Linked DNA regions of Homo sapiens: all the other regions are reported to be linked to region 1. The links are microRNA targets in miRTarBase. Many come from high-throughput screens and were not tested one by one. Region 1 holds a microRNA gene; each other region holds the end of a gene's coding sequence.
Evidence for each region. The annotated mature microRNA hsa-let-7g-5p reads UGAGGUAGUAGUUUGUACAGUU and lies in region 1 at 2,586-2,607, opposite strand. An mRNA with a match to its seed (bases 2 to 7 or 8) in the 3' UTR can be bound and repressed. Matches are read on the target gene's strand: a 7mer-m8 pairs with bases 2 to 8, a 7mer-A1 pairs with bases 2 to 7 and ends in A, and an 8mer does both.

Region 2: miRTarBase lists SART3 as a target of hsa-let-7g-5p. Seed matches in the 3' UTR shown: 7mer-A1 at 3,469-3,475.
Region 3: miRTarBase lists ZNF584 as a target of hsa-let-7g-5p. The part of its 3' UTR that is shown has no 7-base or 8-base seed match.
Region 4: the mRNA of ZNF200 is a reported target of hsa-let-7g-5p. Seed matches in the 3' UTR shown: 7mer-A1 at 4,198-4,204 and 8mer at 3,412-3,419.
Region 5: the mRNA of RNF44 is a reported target of hsa-let-7g-5p. Seed matches in the 3' UTR shown: 7mer-A1 at 2,459-2,465.
Region 6: miRTarBase lists CEP135 as a target of hsa-let-7g-5p. The part of its 3' UTR that is shown has no 7-base or 8-base seed match.

What each region holds. Positions count from the first base shown.
Region 1 is chr3:52,265,751-52,270,824 of GRCh38, forward strand. It overlaps MIRLET7G (microRNA let-7g), which reads right to left and starts at 2,611; the gene lies at 2,528-2,611. It overlaps WDR82 (WD repeat domain 82), which reads right to left. Exons shown (of 9, transcript NM_025222.4): 2 at 4,962-5,059; 3 at 1,202-1,268.
Region 2 is chr12:108,519,016-108,524,078 of GRCh38, forward strand. It overlaps SART3 (spliceosome associated factor 3, U4/U6 recycling protein), which reads right to left. Exons shown (of 19, transcript NM_014706.4): 19 at 3,199-4,619. The coding sequence ends at 4,442. It overlaps FICD (FIC domain protein adenylyltransferase), which reads left to right. Exons shown (of 3, transcript NM_007076.3): 3 at 1-2,195. The coding sequence ends at 460. Among named protein-coding and RNA genes, the nearest start is that of FICD, 6.3 kb to the left of the region's middle.
Region 3 is chr19:58,417,020-58,422,093 of GRCh38, reverse strand. It overlaps ZNF584 (zinc finger protein 584), which reads right to left. Exons shown (of 4, transcript NM_173548.3): 4 at 3,767-5,074. The coding sequence ends at 4,310. It also overlaps a transcript of ZNF324B not described here. Among named protein-coding and RNA genes, the nearest start is that of ZNF584, 11 kb to the right of the region's middle.
Region 4 is chr16:3,219,492-3,224,565 of GRCh38, forward strand. It overlaps ZNF200 (zinc finger protein 200), which reads right to left. Exons shown (of 5, transcript NM_198088.3): 5 at 2,834-5,074. The coding sequence ends at 4,401. Among named protein-coding and RNA genes, the nearest start is that of ZNF200, 13 kb to the right of the region's middle.
Region 5 is chr5:176,524,551-176,529,624 of GRCh38, forward strand. It overlaps RNF44 (ring finger protein 44), which reads right to left. Exons shown (of 11, transcript NM_014901.5): 9 at 4,973-5,074; 10 at 4,738-4,837; 11 at 2,162-4,540. The coding sequence ends at 4,478. Among named protein-coding and RNA genes, the nearest start is that of RNF44, 10 kb to the right of the region's middle.
Region 6 is chr4:56,024,111-56,029,184 of GRCh38, reverse strand. CEP135 (centrosomal protein 135) reads right to left here. Exons shown (of 26, transcript NM_025009.5): 25 at 4,571-4,684. The coding sequence ends at 4,582. Among named protein-coding and RNA genes, the nearest start is that of CRACD, 22 kb to the left of the region's middle.

The DNA.
Region 1 (5,074 bases):
TTTTTTGTAGAGACAGGGTTTCACCATGTTGCCTAGCCTGGTTTTGAACTCCTGCACTCAAGCAATCTGTCCTCCTCAGCCTTCCAAAGAGCTGGGATTACAGGCATTAAGCCACCACGCCTGGCCTGGAAGTGCAATTTCTAACAGGAGGCTCTCAGGCCATCTCCTGTCAGGGCTCCATACCAATCGAAACCATCCTGGGTTACTGTACATTTGCAAATGGATGCAGGAAAAAATACCCCAAGTGATTAAAATATTATCCAGGGGAAAACGTGTTTAACATTCAAAGAAAAGTTGAAAAATTAGAGAAAAAAGTAACTAGGGGCATTGGGGTGAAGAACAGAGAGAAGCAACCTGCATTACAATACAGAAAAAGGAGATAAACTTCTTGATTTTAAAAAAAGGACTTTCTTTTGCATTCTCATTAAGATCTTTAAATGGAACATTTTTACATAGGGGCCCACTGAAATGGGGGCCACATATATTGGAAGGCCTCATAAACACAAACAGTCCTTTATTAAGGGATATGTGAGATTTGGTATTCCTAAATGCCAAATCTAATTTTTACTACATAAGTTTTCACTGAATATCTTTAATCCACATTTTTTCTAGTTTTATATGTATATATAAAACTAGAAATATATATATCTAACTAGAAATAGATATACCTATAACTAGAAAAAATATATATACATATATATCTTTGAGACGGAGTCTCACTCTGTCGCCCAAGCTGGAGTGCAGTGGCGCGATCTCGGCTCATTGCAACCTCTGCCTCCTGGGTTCAAGCGATTCTCCTGCCTCAGCCTCCCGAGTAGCTGGGATTGCAGGTGTCCACCACCATACCTGGCTAATTTTTGTATTTTTAGTAGAGATGGGGTTTTGACACGTTGGCCTGGCTGGTTTCAAACTCCCGGCCTCAAGTGATCCGCCCGCCGCGGCCTCCCAAAGTGCTGGGATTACAGGTGTGAGCCACTGCACTGGGCCTAGTTATATTTTAACTGAGGTATCTCTGAACACCTACCTCTGCACCTCTATAACCTCAGTAAATCAAGAGTTGACTATTTAAGAGAAGATGAAGAATGCCAAGCAGTAGTGAGGAAGTAGCTTCAGTTCACTAATAAGCTCTCTCTAGCCTTCTATTCTCTGGGTAACCTCAGGGATAAAAGAACTATCTGCTTCTATAATACGTGGGTCTTACCTTTTGCTATGTCCAGGAAAGTATCTGATGTATTTGTTGTCATGCAAGGACAAGTAACGAATAGTATCTGTAAAAAGACAAACAAGGTATGATGATATCATACTATTTAAAAGAAATTTACTTTACATTTTCATCTTAAAAAGACAAGGTCAAATAATCCATTGTATTCTATATCCCAAGCAAGGCATGAATAAATAATGGTGAATAATTCTACTCTGCAGCTGAAGAGTGGGTATGTAGATTTCACCTAACTCAAAAGCAGAGTTCTTAAGTTGACAGCATAGAAAGCAATGTTTGAAATGACCTTTTATTACCAATTTGGTTTCTTCATAATTACAATGCAACTCCCACCCTGCAAATATACCCTGGTCAAAAAACAAAAACAAGTAAAGCACACATAATAATTTTAGATACTGGTCTAGTGTCCACAGAATGGCAAACCTTAAAGAAAAATATGTGGCTGTTGAGCTAACAGACTTAAAGAGGTGAGCAGCCATGGCAGTTAAACTGAAGATCAGGTTGAACCCTGGCAGCAATTTTTGTCTAGAGTTCTCCATCAGTATGTTGACCCACCCTCAACTCATTTGAACATTCTTCAATTGGACACACAAATTACAATGAAAATAAACAAAACGTCAGAGAAGTGATGTCAAGATCTGGGTTAAAAAGATCTTAAGACATTAAAAAAATCAAATTCTTATACCAATGAGTAATAGCAGTGAGATTTTGACAATATTAAAGAAAGGAACAATCAGAGATTTGTGCTTGTGGAAAAATAAGACACTCTTAACCAAATGATTCTATCTGAAAGAGTAAACAAACAAAAAACATGGTGGCGGTAGAGAAATGAAGTGCCATAAAGAATAAAACTGCAAAATAGAAAAGTATTATCCCCTTAAAAAGACTAGGAATAAGGAAAAATTGTTGAGAAACAGCTAAGGGAAAATGGTACCAAAATGCAGAAAGAAAACCATAGAAAGAACATTCTGAAGGCAAACAGAACATAGGAATAAAGGGGTTGAAAGCATCGAGTCATCCCAGGGGTTCACAGGGGTGCTTTCTAATAAGAGGGCATTTAACTTGGGAGGGGGAATAGGGGAATAGGGATATTTGTATATTCCATAACTTGAACACTACACAATTTTCCTTGAAAACATCTTCAAACTTCTTGAATGACAACTACGAAGTATTTCTAGTTATTCTACTGCTAACAATGACTCACCTGCCCTAAGAAGAAAAAGACTTCCTCCCCATTACCTGGTTTCCCAGAGATGAGCAGGGTGACGCCATCCTCTCAGCCCCACTTGGCAGCTGGCGCGCTGTTCCTGGCAAGGCAGTGGCCTGTACAGTTATCTCCTGTACCGGGTGGTATCATAGACCCTCAAACTGTACAAACTACTACCTCAGCCTGGAATCAGGCAAAAGGAAACGGAGCGCTGGAGGAACTCTTCAGGATGCACTTGAGACAGGAAAGGGAACATCCTCACAGCAGAGGCTTGGCAGCAAAGCTACAAGTGCCACACATTTGCCTCATCTTGCACCACATTTGGAGAATCCTCATTTAATCACTCAGAAAAACATCCCAACAGAAGAAATAAACCAGTCATTCGGATGATCACATAGACATGTTTCCTCAGGATCCTAAGGTTTTACATTCTTTTCCAAAATCATTAACTACACTGCTTCCTTAGAAAACCACTTCTGAAATACAGGCATGAAAAGTAGAAATGACATACTTAACTAAAAATCAATACAGGCAGAAGAGTCTCATTAAAAAAAAAAAAAAATGGAAAAAAGGACTTCCGCCCATTCTGCTCTGAGATAGGCACAGCCAAAATAGCAGTATAAGCTATCCTTGTGGAATGACATTAGAAAAATCTTTTTTGTTTTTTTGAGATGGAGCCTCGCTCTGTCACCCAGGTTGGAGTGCAGTGGTGTGATCACCCTAGACCTCCAGGGCTCAAGCAATCCTCCCACCTCAGCCTTACAAGTGGCTGGGACTACAGGCGCGTCCCATCACACCTGGCTAATTTTTGTATTTTTTGTAGAGACGGGGTTTTCCCAAGTTGCCCAGGCTAATCTCGAACTTCTGTGCTCAAGTGATCCACTCTCCTAGGCCTCCCTAAGTGCTGGGATTACAGGCATGAGCCACTATGTAGCCACCGGCCTAAAAAAAACCTTACTGCAAAATGTGAGATGATCATCAATAATCCACTGAAATAAGTTTAAAAACAGAATCCTGGCCGGGCGTGGTGGTTCACACCTGTAATCCCAGCACTTTGGGAGGATGAGGCAGGCAGATCACTTGAGGTCAGGAGTTCGAGACCAGCCTGACTAACATGGTGAAGTCCCAACTCTACTAAAAATACAAAAATTAGCCGGGCGTGTTGGTGGGCACCTGTAATACCAGCTACTTGGGAGGCTGAGGCAAGAGCATCGCTTGAACCCAGGAGGCTGAGATTGCAGTGAGCCGAGATTGCACCATTGCACTCCAGCCTGGGCAACAAGAGCAGGACTCTGTCTCAAAAGAATAAAGAATAGGCCGGGCACGGTGGCTTACAAGGTCAGGAGATCAAGACCCATCCTGGCTAACATGGTGAAACCCTGTCTCTACTAAAAATACAAAAAATTAGCCAGGCATGGTGGCATGCACCTGTAGTCCCAGCTACCTGGGAGGCTGAGGCAGGAGAATTACTTGAACCCGGGAGGCGGAGGTTGCAGCGAGCTGAGATCGCGCCACTGCACTCCAGCCTAGGCAACAGAGTGAGACTCTGTCTCAAAAAATAAAAACAGACAAACAAAAGAAAATAAACAAAATTAAAAAATTAAAGAATTCTAACATGAAAATAAGTGTTACAGTTCAGTTACCAAGACAATCTGTTAACTTAGGATTTATCTCGAGACATGCAGGCAAAAACAGAGATTGTTTATTATAGAAAGAAACTCACAAGTTCAATTTCTAAAAGTAACTCTACTCTTTAGATCAAAAAACGTTCCTGGAATCAGAAGTGACTAAGGTTGGGAAAACACCAAAACTGTTCTAACTTCCCTTAAACTATCATAGTTCAAGCATTTGTGAAACTTTTCTCAAATCTCTATCATTTTAAAAGAAAAAGTCCTGTTGTTTATCACTTGCTGTGTATCAAGTGTTCTTTCCTTTTATTTGTTCTAAAAGTGTTCTTTTTGGAGATGGAGTCTCACTCTGTCGCCCAGGCTGGAGTGCAATGGCGTGATCTTGGCTCACCACAACCTCTGCCTCCCGGGTTCAAGAGATTCTCCTGCCTCAGCCTCCTGTGTAGCTGGGATTATAGGCGTGCACCACTGTGCCCAGCTAACTTCTGTATTTTTAGTAGAGACAAGGTTTCACCATATCGGCCAGGCTGGTCTTGAACTCCTGACCTCAGTGATCCGCCCACCTCAGCCTCCCAAAGGTTGGGATTATAGGCGCGAGCCCCTACGCCCGGCTTTAAAAGCGTTCTTTTAAGTGTCAGGAAGTACAAATCATAAACACAATTAGTTGTTTCCTTTTTCCACTCCCCACTCTGAATTGAAGACTTTTCATACTCAGTCCCAAGTCCTTCAAAAGTGCCAATGGCTTGCTTCCAGCATTCCTTCAGTCAAAACAATGCAATTAACATTACTAACATTATATGAAAATACTTAAACTAAAGTAGTCACAAAGCAGAAGTAGTCACAAAGATTCCATGAACTATTTAACAAAGGAAACCATGACCTTAACTTCCTAAAAAGGCTTGCTTACCGTCTATTTTGTTAGAGCTGTAAACAACTGTGTTTGCTGCATGAGTGTATCTGATGAGGTCCACACCATATTTCTTACTGTACAGGGTTCTCTTTGGTCTGATAAGAAAATAG
Region 2 (5,063 bases), not on the chromosome of region 1:
CGGCAGGTTTCGGACAACACAGGTCCTGGTCGGACACCACATCCCTCCCCATCCGCAGGATGTGGAAAAGCAGATGCAGGAGTTTGTACAGTGGCTCAACTCCGAGGAAGCCATGAACCTGCACCCAGTGGAGTTTGCAGCCTTAGCCCATTATAAACTCGTTTACATCCACCCTTTCATTGATGGCAACGGGAGGACCTCCCGTCTGCTCATGAACCTCATCCTCATGCAGGCGGGCTACCCGCCCATCACCATCCGCAAGGAGCAGCGGTCCGACTACTACCACGTGTTGGAAGCTGCCAACGAGGGCGACGTGAGGCCTTTCATTCGCTTCATCGCCAAGTGTACTGAGACCACCCTGGACACCCTGCTTTTTGCCACAACTGAGTACTCGGTGGCACTGCCAGAAGCCCAACCCAACCACTCTGGGTTCAAGGAGACGCTTCCTGTGAAGCCCTAACCCTAGAAATCCTCAGTGACAAAGGCTGTCCTGAGGTAGGAAAAAAAAAAAGAAACAGCATTTCTAGAAACCTAGTCACTTCCTAAAGCAAAAGGAGAAACATTCTTTACCTCCAAATGTTTTAGTTTTAAAAAAAAAAAAAAACTAAGTTATGAAGCCTTGTCTCTAAAATAACTTATAATTCAACCAAGCTATTTATTTTCTTCTTTGGAGCAAGCTAGTCAGTATTGTATGGTGTCTGCTGTGTCTTGCTGGTGGCCGTGCTTTAGGGGCAACAGTGCCACCATGTGACCAGAACAAAGGTTCTGGAGCAGAATTTGCACTAAGGTGGAGGAGCGGCCAAGAGGTGTGGGACGGGGCCCAGAGCCACTGACATAACTCCTCCAAGTGCTTCTCTGAAACAGGCTGAGAGGTTCTGTGACTGCAACTGGGAAGTCAGACCCAAGTCGCAGCTGAGAGAAATGGTTGAAAGCTCACTTTCTCAAGGTTTAGATTAGTGGTGACTAACTTCCAAGCAAACTTCATAGAAGAGAAAATGAATGCCGACATTCCTTACTTACCTGCAGGAAGACTTTTTGAGCCATAGTTTGCAAACTTTAGTGCCAGCAGCTGTTTTTTTTTTTTTTTTTTTCATATTGAGACTATTTTTCTAATTAAGAATAGGGGGTAGCCATAAAGAGCTGTATGTTGGAGGGGGAAACATGGTGGGCGGGCAGTTTGGTTTTCTTTGTGTATCCGCGTTTCTCTCACACTTCATTTGTAGCAACTCAGGCCAGATGTTTTCGTCTGAAATTCTCTGGGCTTGTCATTCCACCTGTATCGTGCTGCAAACCAGGTGTTATGCTAGTAGGCATCTGCCCTCACCCCTCTGCCTGAGTTTTCTGTAGGCAGATGTTAACCTGAGAAAACAAGTGCCATGTGGACACCAAGTAAGCATTTTTGATAATGAATTAGAGCACCAGTTTCTACTGAATGGAGCAAAAACCTTCAGCCATGGCCAGGCTGCATCCCTTTGGTCCTGGAGTTTCATCTACTTACTGCCATCTTCCACGGTCTTTGCACTGTCCCGTGTCCCATCCCCCTGGGAGGCAGAAGAGATTGCCTCGGAGTGGCCTTATTTTTCTCGCAACTTGTGAAATGATGTAGTGCTCTATGTAATATGGCCGGGTTTCCAAGCTGTCATCCAATGGAAGTAGAATCTTCTCTTTGAATCATATGGTACAGGTGCCAATATGACTGCTGCTATTTAGAGTCAGAGAGGTGGAAGTCACTGGGTCCCTTTCCCAGTGACAGAGCCCATGATGTCTAACACTACTGCACTTTGTCAGTGTGTGAGTGATGGCGAATACGCAGTGTTGTCTCTTTGATTTGGTAATTCCGTTCCTGACAGTAATGAGGCCACTGCTCTAAAGTAGTTTATACAGTTCTTCAGTTGTATAAATAGCACAGAGTAGTTTTTGAAAGGTTAAGAAAAATAAGTGAAAAGACATACACGATATATGAAATGGCTCCAAATGATAATTGTTCAAACCTTTATAAAATGTGTTTTCGTACTCTTATGCTGCCAGAGGTACTTCTTAAAACTCTTCTCGTCTTGGTTTTATAAGCACACCACGGAGGTCTGACAGATGTGCTTGCTTCTACTACAGAGCAAGAGAATTTGCACTTTAGCTATATGTGAAGGATATTATTTTAACAAATTCCTGATTCTAATAAAGTTATTTTATTACATGAATGCTTGAGACTGTCTTATTTGGGAGATGTTCCCATCTGTCATAAGGGCAGTGGGGGTATTCTGACCTTTAGCCCTATTCATAATACTGTTCTGGGAGAGCAACAGATCCAAGATGGTGATTTCCATGGGCAAGAGACCCAGAAGTTGGATAAACCGCCTACCTAGGTGGGCAAGGATGAATTACTGATTTTTTTTTACTAACAAACAGTCAAGTAACTGAAGTAGTTTTTCACATTTCTATTTATCATCAGTTCTGGATTTTCTGGGGAAAACACACAAACCCACTCATGTAGTCCTGGAAATCCATTTCTAGAACAGTCAACACCCGGAACCTAACTGGGTTCTGCTCAAGCCTGAAAAGGTTTGCCCCTGTACCAAGCCTGGGCTGACATCTGCAAGTGTGACATTAAGGTCAGAATACTGGCTGCAGGCAAAGCCAAACCGTTAATGTGAAGCAGCAAAAAGTAAGGCCACACTCACCCATAGTGATATTCAGGGCTCTTCATGTGTCAGGTCCCCAACCATGAGGGCTCTGAGCTACCCAAATCATCACACCAGCTGAACAGTCCATCAGCCTTCCAAGCAGCATCACAGAGAACACTGCAGGAGGAACGCGTGGGACAGCAAAGGTTCTTGCTGCTGTCAATAGCCGCCGCTTGAATTTAATTCAGAAGTAAAGCCTAGTAAAAAGTTGGTTTTGTATAAAAAAGAGATGGAGGGGAACCTACCTTTTAAGACTTAAGAGGCTTACCAACCAATAATTTACAGGGAGGAGAGCTGATATTTGTAGGAAGGTGGAAATTTGAGTGGACAGTTGATGACATGAAGGGATTACCACTAATGTTTCTAGGAGTGAAGGCCTTTCAGTCCTCCTGAGACACCTGCCGCAACATTACTGGATGAGCACAATGACATCTGGAACGTGCCTCAATATAACAGAGGGTGGAGGGGAAACAGACATGAAGGAAGAGGGGCTGGGAGTTGAGGAATGCTGGAAGCTGAATGGTAGGCACACAGGAGTTTATTTTACTGTTCTGTCTACTTTTTAATCGGTTATATTAAAAAATGTTAAGTTAAAAAAATATAGAAAACCCGACTGATGCACAAAAACTTAAACTTACGCAACAGATAAATGAGGAGTTGATTCCCACGACATATACAAGGATTCCCTGACGTCTTTCTCCAGAGTGTCTTAATAAAGCAAGCTTCCCCTACTGAACTGGCCAATGCTGTTGCTGTTTTCAAAGCAGTAAATATTATTTGATAAAAGATGTGAGGTAAAAAAGCTCAAAAGCTCCAGTGTCAAACTGCTATAAAATGAAGACACATCACAGCTGGAATAATTTAAATCAAAGTGACAATGGGATTTGACTTACAAAAGTTCTATTTACACATCTATTAGGTAAAGCAAGGTACACCCACTTCAAAACACATCTGTATGTGAATGCACATCTGAGTACCATTCAGCAAGAAGTTTTGAAGAGAACGTCAGTTTAATAAAGCTAAATGGGGAGAATTGAAGTTTGCATTTGACATGGTATTAAACAAAACCAAAGGGCTGAAACTCATGTTTAGACAACACAGGTCACTAGTCACTAGGCAAAGAAAACAGTCCACAGCAGGTGGCACAAATAATTCCTATACAAAACAAATGTTGCAAATATTCTGCTTTTAGGAAACATGAAACAATGGCTGACATGTCATTTACAAACACATAATATAAAAATGCACAGCCCCATTGAACAAAACTCCAGCAAATGTTTTATAGCTGACTTCCCTCAGACCCACCCCCACAAGAGGCCATTCTGTGAATTACTAGCATCTGCCATTTCATCTTTTAAAATTAAAAGAATGACGGGCACATGTGCTGTGCAGGGTGGAAGAGAAGTGTCATACAAAAAGGGGCCGGAGCTGGCCAGAAACATTTGGACAACTGTGTCTCAAAAACAGTGTGTTCTCGTTTCGCTTCTGTGCCTCAGTCTTTAAGATACAAAACTATCTCAGGACACCACATCCTGGGCCCAGCCTGCAGAGTGGTCACTTTTCTGCCACTGCCCTCAATATGAGGGAGCACTGAAAGGCTCTTGACTTAGAACCCCTTCCCCTTTCTGTCTAAAGCCGAGGAGCCATCTGTGGTTGCGAGCACGCAGCACACCAGGCCTGTCCATCCCCAGTGCACTGCTGGGTGGTGGGAGGTCCGCCGGGCCAGAGTGAAGTAAGGCATTTCCTGTCTCCCAGCGTCCCGTTCACTTTCTCAGAAACAGCTTGGCAAAATCGGCATTGGACATCTTGGGTGCCTCGGTGGCTGCTGGGGCGGCAACTGCAGGAGCCGCGGCAGGGCCGTTCTCAGCCTGAGGAGCTGCAGCACTTGGGCGCTGCAGGGCACGAGGCAGTAGAGACAGCTGCGTCCTTCCCTTCCCCCTCCTAAAAGAGCAAACACTGAATGGACCTTTTGAAGCAACAATTCGTGGCCCCTCATTTATTTGTGAAAATAAGCCAAGACAGTTTTAATATAACCAGAAGTTAAAAGGTGAAAAAAAAAAAGGATAAGATAATCCCTGCCTCCTTAATTCTGTTTATGAAGTAAAAACTGCTTCAACAGACTTGGCCTTGTTCAGTTTTGGCAAAGATCAACCCTGAGCACCAGTCACACTCAGAGGGGATCAGTGTGACTATCACCTCTCAGACCTCACCAGTCACCTGGCAATTCTGCTATCTCCTCCTCATCCCAAACCAGCGAACAGCACAGCTTATGTGGATCATAGCTAGGGCCGTAGACTGGCACACACATGGGTATGAGATTTCTTTGTAAACACACAGATCCAACTGGCAAAGGGGACTTTAAAATAATCACTGCCTTATTTCTGT
Region 3 (5,074 bases), not on the chromosome of region 1:
ATACAAAAATTAGCCAGGCGTGGTGGCACACACCTGTAGTCCCAGCTACTTGGGGGGCTGAGGCAGGCGAATCGCTTGAACCCGGGACGCGGAGGTTGCAGTGAGAAAAGATTGCACCACTGCACTCCAGCCTGGGTTACAGAGCGAGTCAAAAACAACAACAACAAAACCTAGTGACATTTTTATTGGGACTGCATTGAATCTGCAAATCAACTTTGGGAGGATTAACATACTAATATTGAGACTTCCAGTTCATGAACATGGTAAATGTCCTCATTTACTTAGGTATTCTTCAATCAGTCTCTCAGCAACATTTTGTAGTTTTCAGTGTACAAGTCTTGCATAATTTTGTCAAATTTATTTCTAAGTATTTCATAATTTTATGCTCTTATAAATTACATTTTTAAAATTACATGGCTGGGCACGGTGGCTCACGCCTGTAATCACAGCACTTTGGGAGGCCGAGGTGGGCGGATCACGAGGTCAGGGGTTCGAGACCAGCCCGACCAACATGGTGAAACGCTGTCTCTACTAAAAATACAAAAATTAGCCGGGCATGGTGCGGCGAACCTGTTAATCCCAGCTACTCAGGAGGCTGAGGCAGGAGAATCACTTGAACCTGGGAGCCAAGACTGCACCACTGCACTCCAGCCTGGGTGACGGGGAGACTCCGTCTCAAAAGAAAAAAAAATTACAATGTGGATTGGCTTCCGTTCCCCCTAAAAAAGCAGCACTGAGATTTCTATAGGCAGCAAGGTGATCAATATCCTATCCAGCAGCCAGTCTGGGGAAGTGGGGGAGCAATGGAAAATGAAGATAATTCCTCCTTCAAGGGATTTTTGTGAAGCTGAGGTAGGAGGCAGATGGGACTCTACTCCAGAGCAGGTTGAAGACGCTGAAATCAGGAAAAGGCGCTGAAAGCACTTCCCCGTAAGACAGGCCCGCCATTGCCATGGCAGTTTGCCACTGCCTTGGCAACACTCGGAAGTTACTGCCCCTTAGCATGGCAACAGCTGGAAGTTACCACCCATTTTCTAGCCCATTCTGAATAACATTTAGCATCTCGTATGTCTTTAAAAGTGGGTATATAGGCTGGGTGCGGTGGCTCACGCCGGTAATCCCAGCACTTTGAAAGGCTGAGGTGGGCAGATCACAAGGTCAGGAGTTCGAGACCAGCCTGGCCAGCATGGTGAAACCCCGTCTCTACTAAAAATACAAATTAGCCGGGCATGCTGGCCGATGCCTATAATCCCAGCTACTCGGGAGACTGAGGTATGAGAATCACTTGACCCTGGGAGGCGGAGGTTGCAGTGTGCTGAGATCACACCACTGCACTCCAGCCTGGACAACAGAGTGACTCCATCTCAAAAAAAATAAAATAAAATAAAAGTGGGTATAAGCCAGGAACAGTGTCACACCAACCCCAGCACATTGGGAGTCTGAGGCTGGAAGATCACTTGAGCCCAAGAGTTCAAGATCAGCCTGGGCACATGGCAAAACCTTGTCTCTTAAAAAAAAAAAAAATTTAAAGAGATGGGGTCTTGCCATGTTGCCCAGGCTGGTCTATGAACTTCTCGGCTCAAGCGATCCTCCCACCTCAGTATCCCAGAGTGCTGGCATTACAGGCATGAGCCGCCAATCCTGACCCCCTACTCCCAAATTTTTTTTTTTTTTTGAGACAGAGTCTTGCTTTGTCACCCAGGCTGGAGAATAGTGGTGAGATCTTGGCTCACTGCAACCTCTGCCTCCCCAGTTCAAGCAATTCTCCTGCCTCAGCCTCCCAAGTAGCTGGGACTACAGGCGCCCGTCACCATGCCGGGCTAATTTTTTTGTATTTTTAGTAGAGACGGGGTTTCACCATGTTAGCCAGAATGGTCTCGATCTCCTGACCTCATGATCCACCTGCCTCGGCCTCCCAAAGTGCTGGGATTACAGGCGTGAGCCACTGCACCCAGCCAATTTTTTTGTATTTTTAGTAGAGGTGGAGTTTCACCATGTTGGCCAGGCTGGTTTCAAACTCCTGACCTAAAGTGATCTGCCCACCTTGGCCTCCCAAAGTGCTAGGATTACATGCATCGACCACCACGCCCAGCCTAAAACGATTTTTTCTTTAATTAGCTGAGTGTGGTGGTGTGTAACTGTAGTCGCTGCTACTCAGGAGGCTGAGGTAGAAGGATCACTTGAATCCCTGGAGTCAAGGGTGCAGTGAGCCGTGATCATACCACTACACTCCAGGCTGCGTGACACAGCAAGACTCTGAAAAGGTCCCATAAACCGCAAGATCTGGATCCATACTTTGGTTACCCTACGTGTCTCTCTTGAGCCCCAGAGGGAAAGCCCTGACACCATGACAGCAAAAACTTGACAACTGCAAAGGCCACAGCATCCAGACACCAGGAGTACTGGCTGGGTCACAAAAGGCACATCCCAGGACTATAGAATCTTTCAGTCTCAGGATAATGGCCATGAGAGGTGAACAGCCCAGAGAGGATATGAGAATCCAGAAAGTCTGTAGATTATTTGCTGACAGTGACCTTGACACAAATAACAGGTCTGCAATTGCTGAGAAGTTCTGGTGCCCTCACCCCAGGAAACCTCAGTTGCTGGAACATTTGTGGATGCCTCTTTAGAACTGGCTGAAATCCTCTTGTTTATCAGACACTTCACTCCATACTACTTCACTCAATATTTCTATGCCCACTTACTCTACTCAAATTACTCTACCCAACAGGCCCCTATAGGTCTTAGAGTCAGTCTATAACTTACCTCCATGTTCCAGATTTTGGAGAATATGACTTTTGAGCTGAATCTGGAAACAGCTCCTTCTGACCAATGCTGGAAGTTCTGGAACATTCCCTGGGAACAAGGAACCCAACTTTTTATGTCCATAAACATATAGAAGATCTCTCACCAACTATTCCCTTCCGCAAGGTGAGCTCTGGACCCACAAAAAAGCCTGACATCCAGGCTACAAGTCTTTCCCTGGAGGACTCAGGGGCCAATACAAATTAGGCCAACCTTGACTAGAGGTATTTTCTGTCATCCTGCCATCCCCACTGAGGCAGAAAAAACTCAAGAGACCACCTCCACAAAAGCCATTCCCTCAACTTACGGTGATAGTGCCGGATTCTATTCTCAATCTCTCCACACACAGGGATCAGAACCTCAATATTAAAAGAGACTTGGCAGGGCACAGTGGCTCACAACTATAATACCAGCACTTTGGAAGGCTGAGGCAAGAGGACTGCTTGAGGCAAAGAGTTCATGACCAGCCTGGGCAATGTAGCAAGATCCTGTCTCTATACAAATTTTTAAAATTAGTCAGATGTGGTGCCACACAAGTACAATCCTAGCTATTCAATACGCTGAAGCAGGAGGATCACTTGAGTCCAGTAGTTCAAGTCTGCAATGAGCTAGCTTCACACTACTGCACTCCAGCCTGGGCAAGACTGTGAGACCCTGTCTCTAAAAAAACTAGGCCAGGCACAGTGGCTCCCAGCACTTTGGGAGGCCAAGGCAGGAGGATAGCTTGAGGCTCAGAGTTCGAGACCAGCTTGGGCAATATAGCAAGACCCTGTCCACAAATGAAAAAAAAAAATTAGCCAGGTGTGATGGCGCACACCTGTAGTGCCAGCTACTCAGGAGGCTGAAGCAGGAAGATCCCTTGAGACCAGCAGTTCAAGGCTGTGGTGAGCTATGATGGCACCACTGCATTCCAGCCTGGGCAACAGAATAAGACCATCTCAAAAAAAAAATAAAAAAAAAATTTTAAGCGGCTTAAACAATAAAGCCTTTATTACCACATAGTCCAGAGCAGTATGAGACAGTCCATGCTAGGGCATGACAAATACCATGTGTAATGTCAACCATTTCCATGAAAATGGTAAACCTTCCCAGGAAGCCCCCAGCAGATACCAGCTCAGCTCCTCCGGCCAGAGGTGGGTCATGTCCACAGCTAAACCAGTCAAGGGTAGGGAATGAGGCCTGTTTTGGGCTCCACTATTAACGATTCTCTACTGTTTAGAGCAAGGAGCACAAGGTCTGCTGTCCCACTTGCTGTAGGGACCTTATGGGGTGGATAGAGGTGGATGGCGGTGGATAAACTCAGTGATGTGACACTGCCAACAGCCCCAGGCAAGTCAGAGTGCAATGTGGCTCCCGAAAGCGTCCCACACACCAGGCACACACGGGAACTCTCCCTGGGGTGGGTGTTGGGATGTGCAAGGTTTAGCTTCTTTCGGATGGCACTCTCACGGCCACTCTCCTTAACCTCCTTTCTGGAATAAGACCTTTCCTGATGAACACGGTGCTAGCAGCTAACGACCTTCCCATGTGCCCTGTCCTCCTGACGCCTTTCTGGAGTATGGACTTTCTTGTGCTGAAGGAGGGTGGAACTATGTTTGAAGGCCTTCCCACACTCTGTACATTCATAAGACCTCTCTTCAGTGTGGAACTGCTGGTGCCGATTGCGGTAGGATCTGGTAGTGAAGGTTTTCCCACACAGGCTACATTCATAGGGCCGTTCCCCAGTGTGGACTTTCCAGTGCTGATAGAGGCCTGAACGGGTCACGTAGCCTTTCCCACATTGCTTGCATTCAAAAGGCCTTTCTCCAGTGTGAACTCTCTGGTGAAGAATGAAGCTATTATTGTATTTAAAGAACTTCCCACATTCTGTACACTCATAGGGCCTTTCTCCAATGTGCACTTTCCGGTGCCGAATGAGGGTAGACAGAACACTGAAGGTTTTACCACATTTGCTGCACTCGTAAGGCCTTTCTCCAGTGTGAATCCTCTGGTGTAGAACAAGTGCGTCTTTGCGGTTGAAGGTTTTACCACAGTCACTACACTTAAAAGGTTTTATGCCTGTGTGAACCTTCTGGTGTTTCCTCAGCTTAGACGGGTAACTGAAGGCCTTCCCACATTCATTACACACATGGGCTGTTTCTCCAGTGTGAATTTTTCGGGGGTTAATATGAGCTGACTTCTTGAAAGCACTTCTGCCTGTTGGGCATCTGAAGGGTCTCTCTTCAGAATGCGTTATCAGATGGTCAAGGAGGGCAAAGGCCTTTAAGAA
Region 4 (5,074 bases), not on the chromosome of region 1:
ACTAAGCTTCCTGTCTGTATAGATTATTATGTTTTAATAAATTTGGGGCCGGGCGCGGTGGCTCAAGCCTGTAATCCCAGCACTTTGGGAGGCCGAGGCGGGTGGATCACGAGGTCAGGAGATCAAGACCATCCTGGCTAACACGGTGAAACCCCATCTCCACTAAAAATACAAAAAAATTAGCTGGGCGTGATGGTGGGCGCCTGTAGTCCCAGCTACTCGGGAGGCTGAAGCAGGAGAATGGCGTGAACTCGGGAGGTGGAGGTTGCAGTGAGCCAAGAACGTGTCACTGCACTCCAGCCTGACCGACAGAGTGAGACTCCGTCTCAAAAAATAAAATTAATTAATTAATTAATTAGGGAAATTTTTAGCCATTATTTTTCCAAAATTTTTTCCTCTCCTTTCTCTCTTCTTCTGGTACTCCCATTGTGTGTATTTGGTGCACTTAATGATGTCCACATTTCTTTGAAGTTATATTCACTTGTCTTTTTTTTTTTTTTTTGAGATGGAGTCTTGCTCTGTCACCCAGGCTGGATCTCCCCTCACTGTGGGTTCAAGAGATTCTCCTGCCTCAGCCTCCCAAGTAGCTGGGACTACAGGCACTCTCACACTGTCATGCTGGAGTCAACCTCCCATTTACTCTGATTTTTTTTTTTAAAGAGATGAGCCCAGCGCTTTGGAAGGCCAAGGCAGGGGGATCACTTGGGCCCAGGAGTTTGAGGCCATCATGGACAACATAGCAAGACCGCGTTTCTAGAAAAATAAAAATAAAAAAATTAGCTGGGTGAGGTGGCATGTCCCTGTAGTCCCAGATACTTGGGAGAGTTAGGCGGAAGGATCTCTTGAGTCTACGAGTTCAGGGCTGTAGTGAGCTATGATCACAGCTCTGTACTCCAGTCTGCGCAACAGAGTGAGACCCTGTTTCTTAAAAAAAAAAAAAAAAAAAAAAAAAAAAAAGATGTGGTCTCAGTAAGTTGCTCAGGCTGGTCTCTAACTCCTGGATTCAAGGAATCCTCCCACCTCAGCTTCCAAAGTAGCTGGGACTACACGCACATGCCACCATGCCGTCTTGATAATGTTTTTTAAATTTTAAAAATAATTGTTTTTTGAAATGGTATCTCACTCTATAGCCCAGGCTAGAGTGCAGTGGCATAATCTCGGCTCACTGCAACTCCACTTCCCGGGTTCAAGCAATCCTCCTTCCTCAGCCTCCTGAGTAGCTGGGACTACAGATGCCTGCCACCGCAACTGGCTACTTTTTGTATTATTAGTAGAGATGGGGTTTCACCATGTTGGCCAGGCTGGCCTTGAACTCCTGACCTCAGGTGATCCACCTGCCTTGGCCTCCCAAAGTGCTGGGATTATAGGCGTTGAGCCACTGCACTCAACCAAATCTTTTTTTTTTTTTTTTTCGTAGACAGGGTCTCACTATGTTGCCCAGGCTGGTCTTGAACTCCTGGCCTCAAGCCATCCTCCTGATTCGGCTTCCCAAAGTGCTGGGATTACAGGTGTGAGCCACTGCGCCTGGCTTATTTTCTGTAGTTACTACTGGAATTGGATCTTTGGTCTCTTACATTTTCCAACTCTCGCTCTACCGCTATATTGGGAAACTGTTCACTGTTGTTTACTTTTTCAACTTAACTGGTGATCAGGCTCCTTAGGTAACAGAACTTACTCATCCAACAACTTCCCAGGGGCTCTCGTGTTTGGGGGCGGCCCCTGGTCCTGGTCGGGGCGCTCCTCTCATTCCCACCCAGCCTCACTATTGCGGAAGGAAACCCTGCGGCCCATGTCCTGCCCTCTGGGACACTGGGTGCTGATTGACGGCAACCCTGACCGTGGGCACCTCCCCAGTCCAGGAGATGGTGTGGGTTGTGGTGGCTTCACCCACCTACACTTAAAAAAACAAAAAGCTACTCAGGAAGCTGAGGCAGGAGGATTGTTTGAGCCTAGGAGGTGGAGGTTGCAGTGAGCCAAGATCGTCCCACTCCAGCCTTAGCAACAGAGCCAGTCTCAACTAAAGAAAAAAGTGTCTCAGGTACCGTGCCATGGCTTCATGAGAACTGATGTAACCCCCGACTCTGGGCAGGGCTGCCAAAGAGTGAGAGAGTGGAGACTCTCTCTCACCACTCACTTCCTGGCAGCTACTTTTCTGGATGCATGGGCAGGTCCCCTACACATGAGATGGTGTGGGTTGTGGTGGCTTCACCCACCTACACTTAAACGAAAAGCTACTCAAGAGGTTGAGGCAGGAAGATCGCTTGAGCCTAGCAGGCGGGAGGTTGCAGCGAGCCAAGATCACCCCACTCCAGCCTTATCAACAGAGCCAGTCTCAAAGAAAAAATTAACTGTCTCGGGTACTGTGCCATGGCTGCATGAGGACTGATAAAATACCCGACTCTGGGCAGGGGTACCAAAGAGTGAGTGGAGACTCTCTCTCACCACTCACTTCCTGGCAGCTACTTTTCTGGGTGCACAGGCAGGTCCACTGCACATGGTAACAGCCTGCCGACTCTGGAAACACAGTTCAGGATCCCAGTCCTAGTGCACTGGTCAGACTTTCAAATAAGCGAATAACGTTGTGGGCAGCCTGTTTTGTTCGCTTTGCTGGCTTTACAGGGTACTTCCTGTTGGCCTGAAATACAATGTTGGTAAAGACAGTTTTTCTGTGGCCTTTCTCTGTTGTGGAGGATTTGTTGTTTTTAAATTACGATTCAGGACTGAACTGTATCATAGAATGTCCTTCTTTCAGAATGCTTTGTGCCAAAACAAGAAACCTCAGAATTACATGTTAATAACAACAAACAAAACAAAAAAGACCAATAGGCAGAAGGCAAGAAACAAAAACTATTCTTTGTAGATGGTGTCATTTTACCAAAAGTTAACAGAACTAAACCAACAAACTATTGAAAATTAACAACAGTGAGATGACTATACAAATATATAATTAAAAATAACTTTCCCATGTAAAAGCAATAATCAACTATAAAAATATAATGGAAAAAACTACAATAACAAAATTGTGTAAAACAAGTGAAGAAAATTAGAAAAATTTTCACAGGAATATAATACTCTAATAAATAGAAAGGCATGTTTCTGGATGGGAAACATACACTATAATTTTTCCCAAATAGCTTATAGGATTTCTTTATTCCAATCAAAACACCAATGTATAACTTTTGGAAACCTAAAGCAAGCAAAACTGAAGAATCCCTAAATCGCACCACACGATCAGTCCGTAAAGGCACCGCTGGCCTTGCTTCTAGGCAGAGGACAGGAAGGTATGGATATCAAGAGGCTGAAGACAATTAATACCCACTACAATGAAGACACCTGGAAACCTGTCTCTTGAGAGGCAATGTGAGCTAACCACTGGAGACGTAATTTCTAATCATACAACACTTTGCCTTGTGAGGTAGTGACCACCCCATTGCCAAAGGTCTGATGACAGCATAGAGGGGACCTAAGCATATGGTAAGGTTATTGATGAGACATGGATCCAAGCCAACTTTTTCCTGCCTCCAGGTTGACCCTTCCTCTCTGGGTCTTGGGGTTTCCTTCGTAGCACATGAGATCTGGGCTCAACAGAGGGACAAGATTCTGAAGAGCTTTTCTAGTGGTGGGGCTGGATGGCCCTGCCTGAGTAATCCAAACTTCTTTTAGCAAGGGAGAAGCATGAGACGGCTGCTGGAGAGATCAACAGCAGAACAAAATACAATAAGAACAGTAGACACCTAAATTATGTTGTGAAAAGGAATCTGTAAAAGTCAGTTTTATCACAAATTGTAAATATTATTGAAATTGATTGCAAATTTAGATCACATACAAATGAGAGTCTGACATTCAACTGTTTTCCTATATTCCAAAGTAAACAATTCCTTTCAACACTCAAGACTTAAACAGGTATTCTTAGAGGGTTATATGAATTGCTATCAGAAGCTGTTGGCTAACAAGCCAGTAATTTGGTTCTTTCACCAGAACACAGTTCCAGATAAGCATCTTTGCACTATTTCTCAAGTATGAATCCCCATGTGGGGGGAAAACGGATATACTTTCAATAGACACAAGTCACTCTTTGCCTTCCAAGTAAGCAGACTCCAGATTCATCTTCAAAGTGTTGGGAAAGGGGATCTGTGACCTGTACATTATCATATAACTTCAAAAAGGAAAGCTCCTTAGTCCAAAAAGCCTAGATGCTGAGGTATAGCCCTTGAAATGTTTTCTTCCCTGTGAATTTTCTAGCAATTTGAGGTTTTAGCTAAGATGGGCATTTATCCAATTTTGGCAATAATGAGATTTTTACACATTTATACCTTTTTAGGCAGCTTGGGAATTCAGAACTACTTATGAAAGCTCTCAGGTTGAGGCAGCACCATCAGACCCAGAAAGGGTTCCCAGTATTACTTCTGCTTTCGGGTCTTACAGGCTGAGTGGGTTTTCTCATGCCGGGTACAGTTTGACAGCCGACCAAATCTTCTCCCACATTTTTTGCAACCATATGGTCTCTCAGCCTCATGACTCTGCAGATGAAGCACAAACTCCTCATTCTTTGGGAAGGTTTTCCCACATTCTGGACACTTAAATATCTTCTCCCTTATATGGATTCCTTCATGACGACTCCGATGAGAATTCTGACGGAAGTTTTTTCCACACTGAGAACAGGAATAAGGTTTCTCTCCTGTATGAATTCGCTCATGTTTATTGAGGTTTGTTTTATGATTGAAGCTTTTCCCACAGTGATTACAGTCATAGGGTTTTTCTCCAGTGTGGGTCCTCTGGTGGGAAATGAGGTAAGAACTTTCATTAAACTGTTTCCCACACAGTGGACAAGTGTACCATCTCCTTGTCCTCCGATTTCGAGTAAGGGCAATAATACTGATGTCTACATATTTTGAGAGTTCCTCTAGAGGAGTATCATTCTCAATGGTAACTAACAGATTTCTCATTTTCCTTTTTTGTGGAATGGATGTATTTAGTCGTTCCTTTTCCTGGTTATCGGGAGGCTGCTGAGAGACCAAGGAAGAATCCATTTCATCATCATCTGAAGACTTTTCTCTATAATCTTCATTTTCTA
Region 5 (5,074 bases), not on the chromosome of region 1:
GCAGTGAGCCAAGATCGCCGCCACTGCACTCCAGCCTGGGTGACAGAGCGAGAATCTGTCTCAGGAAAAAAAAAAAAAAAAACCACAAAAACAGAGCCAGGCATGGTGGCTCACACCTGTAATCCCAGCACTTTGGGAGGCCGAGGCAGGTGGATCACTTGAGGTTAGGAGTTCGAGAGCAGCCTGACCAACATGGTGAAACCCTCTCTCTACTAAAAACACAAAAAATTGGCTGGGTGCGGTGGCTCACGCCTGTAATCCCAGCACTTTGGGAGGCCAAGGTGGGCGGATCACCTGAGGTCAGGAGATCAAGACCATCCTGGCCAACATGGTGAAAACCCGCCTCTACTAAAAATACAAAAATTAGCTGGGCGTGGTGGCGTGTGCCTGTAATCCCAGCTACTTGGGAGGCTGAGGCACAAGAATCACTTGAACCCAGGAGGCGGAGGTTGCAGTGAGCTGAGATCACGCCACTGCACTCCGGCCTGGTGACAGAGCCAGACTCCGTCTCAAAAAAAAAACAAAAAAACAACAAACAAACAAAAATTAGCTGGGCGTAGTGGTGCGTGCCTGTAGTCCCAGCTACTCGGGCTGAGGCAGGAGACTCACTTGAACCCGGGTGGCGGAGGTTGCAGTGAGCTGAGATCGCGCCATTGCCCTACAGCCTGGGCGACAGAGCGAGAGTCCATCTCAAACAAACAAACAAGAACAACAACAACAAACCAAAGTGTTGGCATTACAGGCTCGAGCCACGGTGCCCAGCCTAGGCATGTCTGCATCTTAAAAAACAAACAACCACCCTTGCTGAGATTTTGATAGAAATTGCATTAAACCTACAGATTGATCTGCGAAGAAATGCCACCTTTACTATGTTGAATATTCCAATCCAAGTACACGGTTTGTTTCCATTTATGTAGGTCTGATTTCTTTCATTACAGTTTTGTAGTTTTCAGCATGCAAGTCTTGCACGTTTTGTTAGATTTAGTCCTAAGTATTTCATTTTTCTTTGAGCCATTAGAAATGTTATCATTGTGTTTTAAGCTGGGCGCGGTGGCTCACGCAGGTAATCCCAGCACTTTGGAAGGCTGAGGCAGGCAGATCACTTAAGTTCAGGAGTTCAAGACTAGCCTGGGAAACAACATGAGACCCCGTCTCTACAAAAAAATACAAAAACTTAGCAGGCCATGGTGGCACACGCCTCAGGTGATGCTAAATTAGAGGAGACTGAGCAAGGGCTACCAAGCGCTGCCGCGCAGAGAAAAGCAAGGTTGCAGGCTGGACGCGGTGGCTCACACCTGCAATCCCAGCACTTTGGGAGGCCAAGGTGGGAGGACTGCTTGAGCCCAAGAGTTCGAGACCAGCCTGGGCAGCATAGTGAGACTTGTTCCTATTGGAAAAACAAAACAAGTTGTGAAATGAGGGAGACCTTATTTCCTCATGACAGGCCTGAGCCCCCTGATCCAGTCAGGACAGAAGAACCTACCTTGAGATTCATTTTTATTTTTTGAGACACAGTCCGCTGTCACCTAGGCTGGAGTGCAGTGGTGCAATCTTGGCTCACTGCAACCTCCACCTCCTGGATTCAAGCAATTCTCCTACCTCAGCCTCCCGAGTAGCTGGGACTACAGGCTTGTGCCACCATACCTGGCTAATTTTTTTTTTTTTAGACGGAGTCTTGCTCTGTCACCCAGGCTGGAGTGCAGCGGCACGATCTTGGCTCACTGCAAGCTCCGCCTCCCAGGTTCACGCCATTCTCCTGCCTCAACCTCCCGAGTAGCTGGGACTACAGGTGCCCGCCACCACGCCCGGCTAATTTTTTTTTGTATTTTTAGTAGAGACAAGGTTTCACCGTGTTAGCCAGAACGGTCTCAATCTCCTGACCTCATGATCCGCCCACCTCAGCCTCCCAAAGTGCTGGGATTACAGGCATGAGCCACCGGCTGGGATTACATGCATGAGCCACTACGCCCGGCCTAATTTTTCTGTGTTTTTAGTAGAGAAGGGGTTTCACCATGTTGGGCAGGCTGGTATCGAACACCTCACCTTAAGTGATCCACCAGCCTCGGCCTCCCAAAGTGCTGGGATTACAGGTGTTAAGCCTCATCCCCATCCCACCTCCCACCAAAAAGACACGGGCAGCCAAAGGCAGCGTGGGCGGTCGTTGGTATACATCATACATTTATTAGTGAATATCCCTCTGAAATCAGCAACAATATTAAAAAAAATAATGATTGCACTACTTGGTCAAGCAGAACTAGCAACTTTCATTTTAAAAAAAGTACAAATCTGTTAAAAATTTCAATCAGTATACACATATATATAATACAACATACTAGTTATGTTAAATGCTACAAACCAATGTGAATCCCATGGAATGGAAAAAACCACACATTTAAGCTTTAAGAACCATTTTTTTCTCTATATATTAGCATTTTCTCAAATACATACATGGGAAAAATGAGGTAACTGTAAAATGTGCAAGGAACAGGGCCCCCAAAATTACATATATTTCTACATATATATGTAATTTTATATATATATAAAACCTTTCTAACACAGAACACAGGCGCTGGGCCCAGCCAGGGCTGGGGGAAGGTGCCCACTGTCATGCCTAGGCCAGAAGTTGGTAAATAAGAGAGTAAACAATGGCAAGCCCCCACCACAGGAAATCATTGGTAACATGGCATCTATAGCAAGGTCGGCAGATCACAAACATCCTAAGTAATTGTTGTATAAATCTTGTTTTTTAATGATGATCTTTTTAAATGCTGTGTTTCCCCCCCAATAGCTGCTTGTTGGAATCACTGCTGCAGCCGACACACAATCTGTGAGCCTGTTTCCGCCTGCCCCAGGAACTGTAAGGGGTTTGAAAACGTTTTGTTGGGGTCGGGAAGGGAGGGGTTGGAGAGGGTGGTTCTGTGTAAAACACGTGGGTTTTCAACACTGCTATAAATATAGAAACGTCACCTGGAGTTATATACAGTAAGACTTTGGGTTCTCCATGGGGGTGGGACCAGGCTGACGGGCCCCACGGCAGGCTGGGGCGGGAGGTGGGAGCCAGGGCCACTGCGAGGAGAACGAGGGTGGTTGGAGCATCCCTGAGGCAGCAGGCGCCAGGGGCTGCCTGCTAGGATGTGCCGGCCCCACACGCAGTTCGTTCAGGGCAGCAACCCCAGCTGGGTATAGGACAAGAAAGGATTGGGACCAGGGAAAGTGGGTGGGAAGCTCAGCCAGACCCTACAGCGGCCTCCTCCAGAACTTGGAGGACAGGGATCAGGCTGGGAAGGCCCCCTGGAGATGGGGGTCCACAGCCTTCCTGGTCCCCATCCTCCTGGGACTTCCTTGGAGGAGATTCGCCCAGGCAGGTGGGAGTTGGGCCCTGGCTGGAGGGAGAAATGCCCTGAAAAGCGTCGGGTCCCGGTAGGCTCTAGGGACGTGTGCAGTACAGTGCATGGCAGTTATCAGCTGAGCACAGACCCCCAACCCTGCCCCACGACCGCCGGCCGCCCAGCCCAGCCCGGCACACGCATGCATGCAGGCCGGCCAGCATGACCGTGCTCGGCCCCCTGGGCACTCGGTCCCAGTTGGTCCCTATACCCGCCCCTATTAAACCAAAAGAAAAAAGAAATTGTCTTAAATATCCACATCCCCAAATCCTACACGTGATTTTGGGCCAAATGAATGAACAAAAACTGCTGCTCCTCACGTTCATGCAAAACAACAGAGGGAGAGGAGATTGGGCACGGGTCTGGCTGCATCCCTGGGAGGGACAACCACCGGGAACACAGGGCTCCCTCTCCCCGTATGGCCCAAGCCCCTCAGGATACGTGTGCCCCAGCTCGGGATTAGGCTGGGACGCCCTCCAGCCTGAGGGTGGGGCTGGAATGTTGTTCCTGGGATGAGGGTCCCCTAGGGAACCAGACTCAGCCCTCACAGCAGCCAACACAGAGCCAGCTGCCTGAGTTCACTGTTCGGGGTCAAGGAGGGGGGATTCAGCCCTGGGGCTCAGGAAATGGCTCGTGACACCGTCTGTCTACGCACCTGGCAGTGCCACCTGGGCAGAGGGCACGCCATTTCAGAGCATGAGACCTTCTGACCCAGGATGGTGCTCTGTCTGCCCATCCTGGGGCCAAGGATCTCCACCGGCCCCACTGAGGGAGCGGACCCCTGGCACTCAGTGCCAGCAGGAAAAGGAGGGACCTGAGGGTGCACAGGAGGGAGACCCGATCAGGGACACTCAGGCAGCTCCGTGGCGGGCGGGCAGGCAGGCAGACTAGGGAGGGAGTCTTTGGAGCTTGGCAAATGCAGGGGCTTATTGCAGGGACTCCTCGCTGGGCTGACCCTGGCACCAGCTCTGGAAATGCAGGCAGGAGCGAAGGGGCAGGCCTGGGCCACTCCCTCCCCATCCTCCCTGGGCCCCACCCACAAGTTTCCAGAGCTTCAGGCAGGGTTCTCCCGGGCAGGCGGCTGCGTGGCCTCACTCAGCCTCCCTGGGCACCTCGGAGGCGTCGGCCCGGCAGATGGGACACGTCCGGTTGGCCTGTGGGAACATGCACGTCAGGCGTTGCTCTCACCAGCCCCAACCCACCACATCTGTGCAGCCACCTGGGGGGACTTGGTCCGCTGGAGCCAGAACTTCCGAGATGATGACAAGGACAAGGAGGGAAACAGCCCAGGCCAGCCCATCCCCCCGTCACTGCATGAGGAATACCCAGGAGCAGACCTGGGCAGTGTTACCTTCAACCACTTGTCAACACACTTGGTGTGGAACTCATGGTTGCAGGGGAGGACTCGGAGCAGCTGCCGCGCCTCGAAGTCACTGAAGCAGACCACACACCTGTGGAGGGGCGCGGAGCGTCACCTCCACGCTGAGGGCCATGGGAAGGCTCAGTGGAGTGTGACTCCCCTGAGAGGGGCGTCCCACGGCAGCCAGCTGTGTTCAGAGGGGTGGGAGGTGGGGCAGGGTACTCACAGCGTCTGCTCCGACTGATGGCTGTCCGGGTTAAAGCGGTACGACGGGAGCTGCTCTATGTCTGCTTTGGTGAGACCCCGGGGCTTGGCATCTCCCAGCCGC
Region 6 (5,074 bases), not on the chromosome of region 1:
GGTGGCGCGCCTTGAGAGGGCACAGAAGCTTTGAGCTGCTTTCCTGATAATTTGCCCTATGCATCCCTTCCACTTGCCTGTTAATCTGTATCCTTTATAATAACCTTTTCAATAAGCAGGTAAATGTAAAAATGTTTCCCTGAGTTCTGTGAGCTGCTCTAGCAAATTAATAGAATGTGATGAGGGGGCTGTGGAAACCTCTTCAGTCAGAAGCACAGATCACAACCTGGGACTTGCTATTGGCATCTGAAGTCGAGGGGAAGGGATTTGTGGGATTGGGCTCTTGATCTGTGGGATCTGACACTATCTCCAGGCAGATAATGTCAGAATTGAGTTAAATGTTAAAATTGAGATCAATTGGTGTCTGCTGGAGAATACAGTGTCTGAAGTGGTATGCTGAGTGGTGTATGAGAATCGGAAAAACACTTTTATAGGCTTTTCCTATCTCAAATAGCATGCATTAGATATGATAGTCAAAAAACAAATAATAAAAGTTGGATTGTCTATTTAACTATCAGAGAGACACTAATCTGAGATGCCATTTTATAGTTGAGCAATTCATTTTTTTTTTTTTCCTTGAGCAATTCATTTCTGAGTGCTTGGGGAAATCCCTTAAAATTAGTTTTGGTGACAATATTTAGAAAATACGAGGGGAAATGGATTAGTAAATAACAATCTCATTAATATACCTCAAAAATTAATTGTAAATTATTACAAAGTTATAAATTATGAGTTTGTTGATGATTATAAAAGCTTTCTAATCTGCATGTACTAGAATTATTGTAATTAAAAAGTGGAAAATAACAAGTGTTGGTGACGATGTGGAGAACAGGAACCCTCATGCATTGCTGGTGGAAATATAAAATGGTGCAGCACGTGGAAAACAGTTTGGCAGTCCCTCAAAAAGTTTAACAGAATTACCATATGACCCACCAATTCTAGTCTCAGGTATATACTAAAAGATTTGAAAACAAGGACTAAAACAGATACTTGTACACCAATGCTCAGAGCAGCATTACTCACAATAACCATATGATAGAAACAACCCAGGTGTCTTCAACTGACAAAAGGATTTTTTAAATGTGGTATATCCTACAATATGGATGAACCTGGAAAATATTATTCTAAGTGAAATAAGCCAGATACAAAAGAACACATGTATGATTTCACTTATATGAAAATGTAAAATAGGCAAATTCATAGAGACCAGAAAAGTAGATCTGAAGTTACTAGGAGCTGGGAAGGTTAAGGTCTGGGGATTGGAGAGTGATTGTTTAATGGGTACAGAATTTCTGTTTGGGGAGATAAAAAAATCTTAGAATTAGATAGTGGTGATGGGTGTGGTGGCGTGCCTGTAGTCCCAGCTACTCAGGAGGCTGAGGCGGGAGGATTGCTTGAGCTCAGGAGAGTTTGAGGTTTCAGTGAGCTATGACCATGCCACATCCTTCCAGCCTGGGTGACAGAGTGAGACCCTGGCTCTAAAAACAAAACAAAACAAAACAAAAATGCAGTGTCTAATTCATCACAGTTTCAGGGACTGCAGGAATCTATGTTCCATATCAGTAGTTCTTAAAGTGCAGTCTGGGGATCCCTGAGAATCCCCAATACTTTCAGAGACTCTACAAGGTCAAGCCTATTTTCATAAAACCAAGGAATTATTTGCCTTTCACTCTTATTTTCTTACAGGTCTACAGTTGAGTTTTCCAGAGCTACATGATGTCAAGAGACAGGCAGTAAATATTTTAGATTTGTGGGACATGGGGTCTGTCAAAACTACTCAACTCTGCCACTGTAGTAAAGCAGTCTTAGACAATCTGTTAACAAATGGGTGTGGCTGTGCTCCAATAAAGCTTAATTTACACTAATAGGCAGTGGTATGGATTTGGCTTGCAGATCCTAGTTTACCAACCAACCCCTGATCTAAACTGCAGCTGTGAATCAAACATGAGAAAATGTCTGTGTCACATTCTTACAATCCTTTGTAACAAGAAGGTGAACCACCATCTGATCACATGAAAATAACACAGCAATTCAAGAAGGACACAGTGACTACAGTGAACACTGAGAAGTGGTCCTCAAAGTGAAAGAGAAAAATAAATGCCCTAATCAAACACAAAAGCAGAAGCAGAGCAATCAGGAATCATTTAAACCAAGGCCCTACAAACTTGAGGGCATCAGTACGTCAAAGAATAGCACATAACTAATGTTCACAATGAGGATTCTGAGTCAGAGGAAATGTTTAATTATCTTCTATATATTTCTATCAAAAGAGGCAAAGAAATGTATCAATTTAAACAAGACTGGCATAACTATTTCTGTCAATGAGTATGCATTTTCCACAGTCACTACCTGTCAAAGCCTGGGTCTGACTCATGTTTCTTTCCCACTCATTCCCATCTCCAGTGAATCAGCACATCCCTTTGATCCTTCCTCAGTCAAATGCATCCTGGCACTTTACAACTACTTTGGAAAACAGTTTACCATATCTCCTAGAGCTTGAACATACACATATCCAGTGATCCATCAATTTCACTTCTAAGTATAACCATAGCACTATTTGTAATAGCCCAAACTGGAAACTGCCAAGTGCTTATGAACAGAAGGAGGAGTAATTGGATTGTAGTAAGTTTCCATAATGGCATTCCATACACAGCAACAAGAGTGAACAATCTACAAGTACACACAACAATATGGATGGATCTCACAAATGTACTGTTGAGAAAAAGAAGCCAGGAACATGATTTCATTTATAAAATGTCTAAAAGTAAGCAAAAAGAAATCTACACTTTTAACAGTCAGGACAGTTACTTTTAGACCAGGGCTTATGACTGACGCCAAAGAGAAGTTAGTTTTGTTTTGTTTTTGTTTTGTTTTTTTGAGATGGGGTTTTGCTTTGTTGTCCAGACTGGATTTGAACTGGGCTCAAGTAGTCCTGCAACCTCAGTCTCCTGTGCCAGGCTTTATATTTTATTTTTTTGGATGGAGTCTCACTCTGTCACCCAAGCTGGAGTGCAGTGGCGCGATCTGGGCTCACTGCCACTTCTGCCTCCTGGGTTCAAGCAATTCTCCTGCCTCCGCATCCCAAGTAGCTAAGACTACAGGTGCGTGCCACCATGCCCAGCTAATTTTTCTGTTTTTAGTAGAGACGGGGTTTCACCATGTTGGCCAGGCTGGTCTTGAACTCCTGACCTCAAGTGATCCACCCGCCTCGGCCTCCCAAAGTGCTGGGATTACAGAGGTGTGAGCCACCGTGCCTGGCCTATTTTTTTTTTTTTTTGATTTTCATGCAGGTTACCTGGATGTGTTCAATTTGTTCATTGAAAAAATTCATTGAACTATGTATCTATGATATGGTACCTTTCTGTATATATTTCATGGTTTACTTTAAAAATTATGTCCTAGCTTTCAATGTTATTATACTAATCCTGAACTATTATACTGCTCATTTCATACCACTTACTGGTCTCTCTACCTCTAGTTCCTATCCTTTCCAATATGGTTCAAACACAGTTGTGAAATTAATCTACCAGAAACAGTTATTTCATCTTGACCCTTCCCTTGTACCCATCCTATACACAGGAGGACTGACGTTCACGTTCCTTTTGACTTACAGAATAAAGTCCACAATCTCTAATTTAGCTTCACATTCAATATAATACTCTATATATCCCACTCTACCTTCCAAACCTCTCTCCCTCATTATTCCCCCACAGCCTGCCCTTCCTGCCAGGTTACTACTGTACCATGTGTACTACTGTTTCTATGCTTTGTCTACATTTTTACTACCTATTATTTGTAGCCTGAATTTAGCCCTTCATCAAATAATATCCTGTGATAGCTCATATTGTCATTTAACGTTATGCTGTAGATGTCTTCTCTTTTTAAATTCAGGTATAATTTATATACGATAAAATGCATGGACCAGCCTGTAGTCCCAGCTACTCAAGAGGCTGAGGTGGGAGGACTGCTTGAGCCCAGGAGTTTGAGGCCAGCCCAGGCAAGATAGTGAGAACTCTTTGTTTTTTTGGAGATAGCTGCTTGCTTTGTCATGCATACTGGACTGTAATAGTGCAATCACAGTTCACTGCAGCCTCAACCTTCCGGGCTCAAGCCATCCCCCTGCCTCAGTATCCTCCCCCACCTCCCCAGCAGCTGGTACCTGGGACTACAGGTGTGTGCCACCATGCCTGGCTAATTTTTGTATTTTTTGTAGAGGTGGAGGTCTCACTGTGTTGCCCAGGCTTGTCTCAAACTCCTAGCCTTAGGTGATCCTCCAGCCTCAGCCTCCCCAAAGTGCTGGAATAACAGGTGTGGGCCACTGTGTCTGGCCGAGACCCCATCTCTTAAAAAAAAAAAAAAGCATACACTGTAAATGGTCAGTTTTATGAATTTTTACAATTGTATATACCCACATAACTACTATCACCAAGATATAGAACTTTTCCATTACTCCAGGAAGTTCTCCTGAACGCCTTACCAGGCAATCTCCCCTTTCCTGATGCAGAAAACTACTTTCTGAATTTTTACAACCACAGATTAGTTTTGCCTGTCCTTGGTGTTACATACATACCTTTCTGATAATTACACATTTCTATGTTCAGGAGAATGTGAAGGAGACCTCAGAGTGGAACTAAGGGGTGGTGTAGCAAGACCATGTCGACGCATCTCTTGGATTGCTCGTTCTCTGTTAGTAAAGATCAAACAAGAGAGATATATTCAAGCACCAGGGAAAATCAAAAAGTGGCAAACAAATATAAGAGTTATTAGCTAATTTGTAATAAATTACTTAGTATTACTATTAAATTTAAATCCTATGTCTTTGTACAATTTTTAAGTAGTGGATAAAATATTTCAATTAAAAAATTAAATATATATATATAGTGAGGAGCATCTTGCTTCTAAGGTATTATTTTAATGACCTAATTGCTTTGAACAATCTCTTATAGTGCATATTCTTTTAATGGAAATCTTTTATCCGCTACTTAAAAATCATACAAAGACATAGGATTTAAATTTAATAGTAATACTGATATACTAATTATACTAATTATATATATACTAATATACTATATAC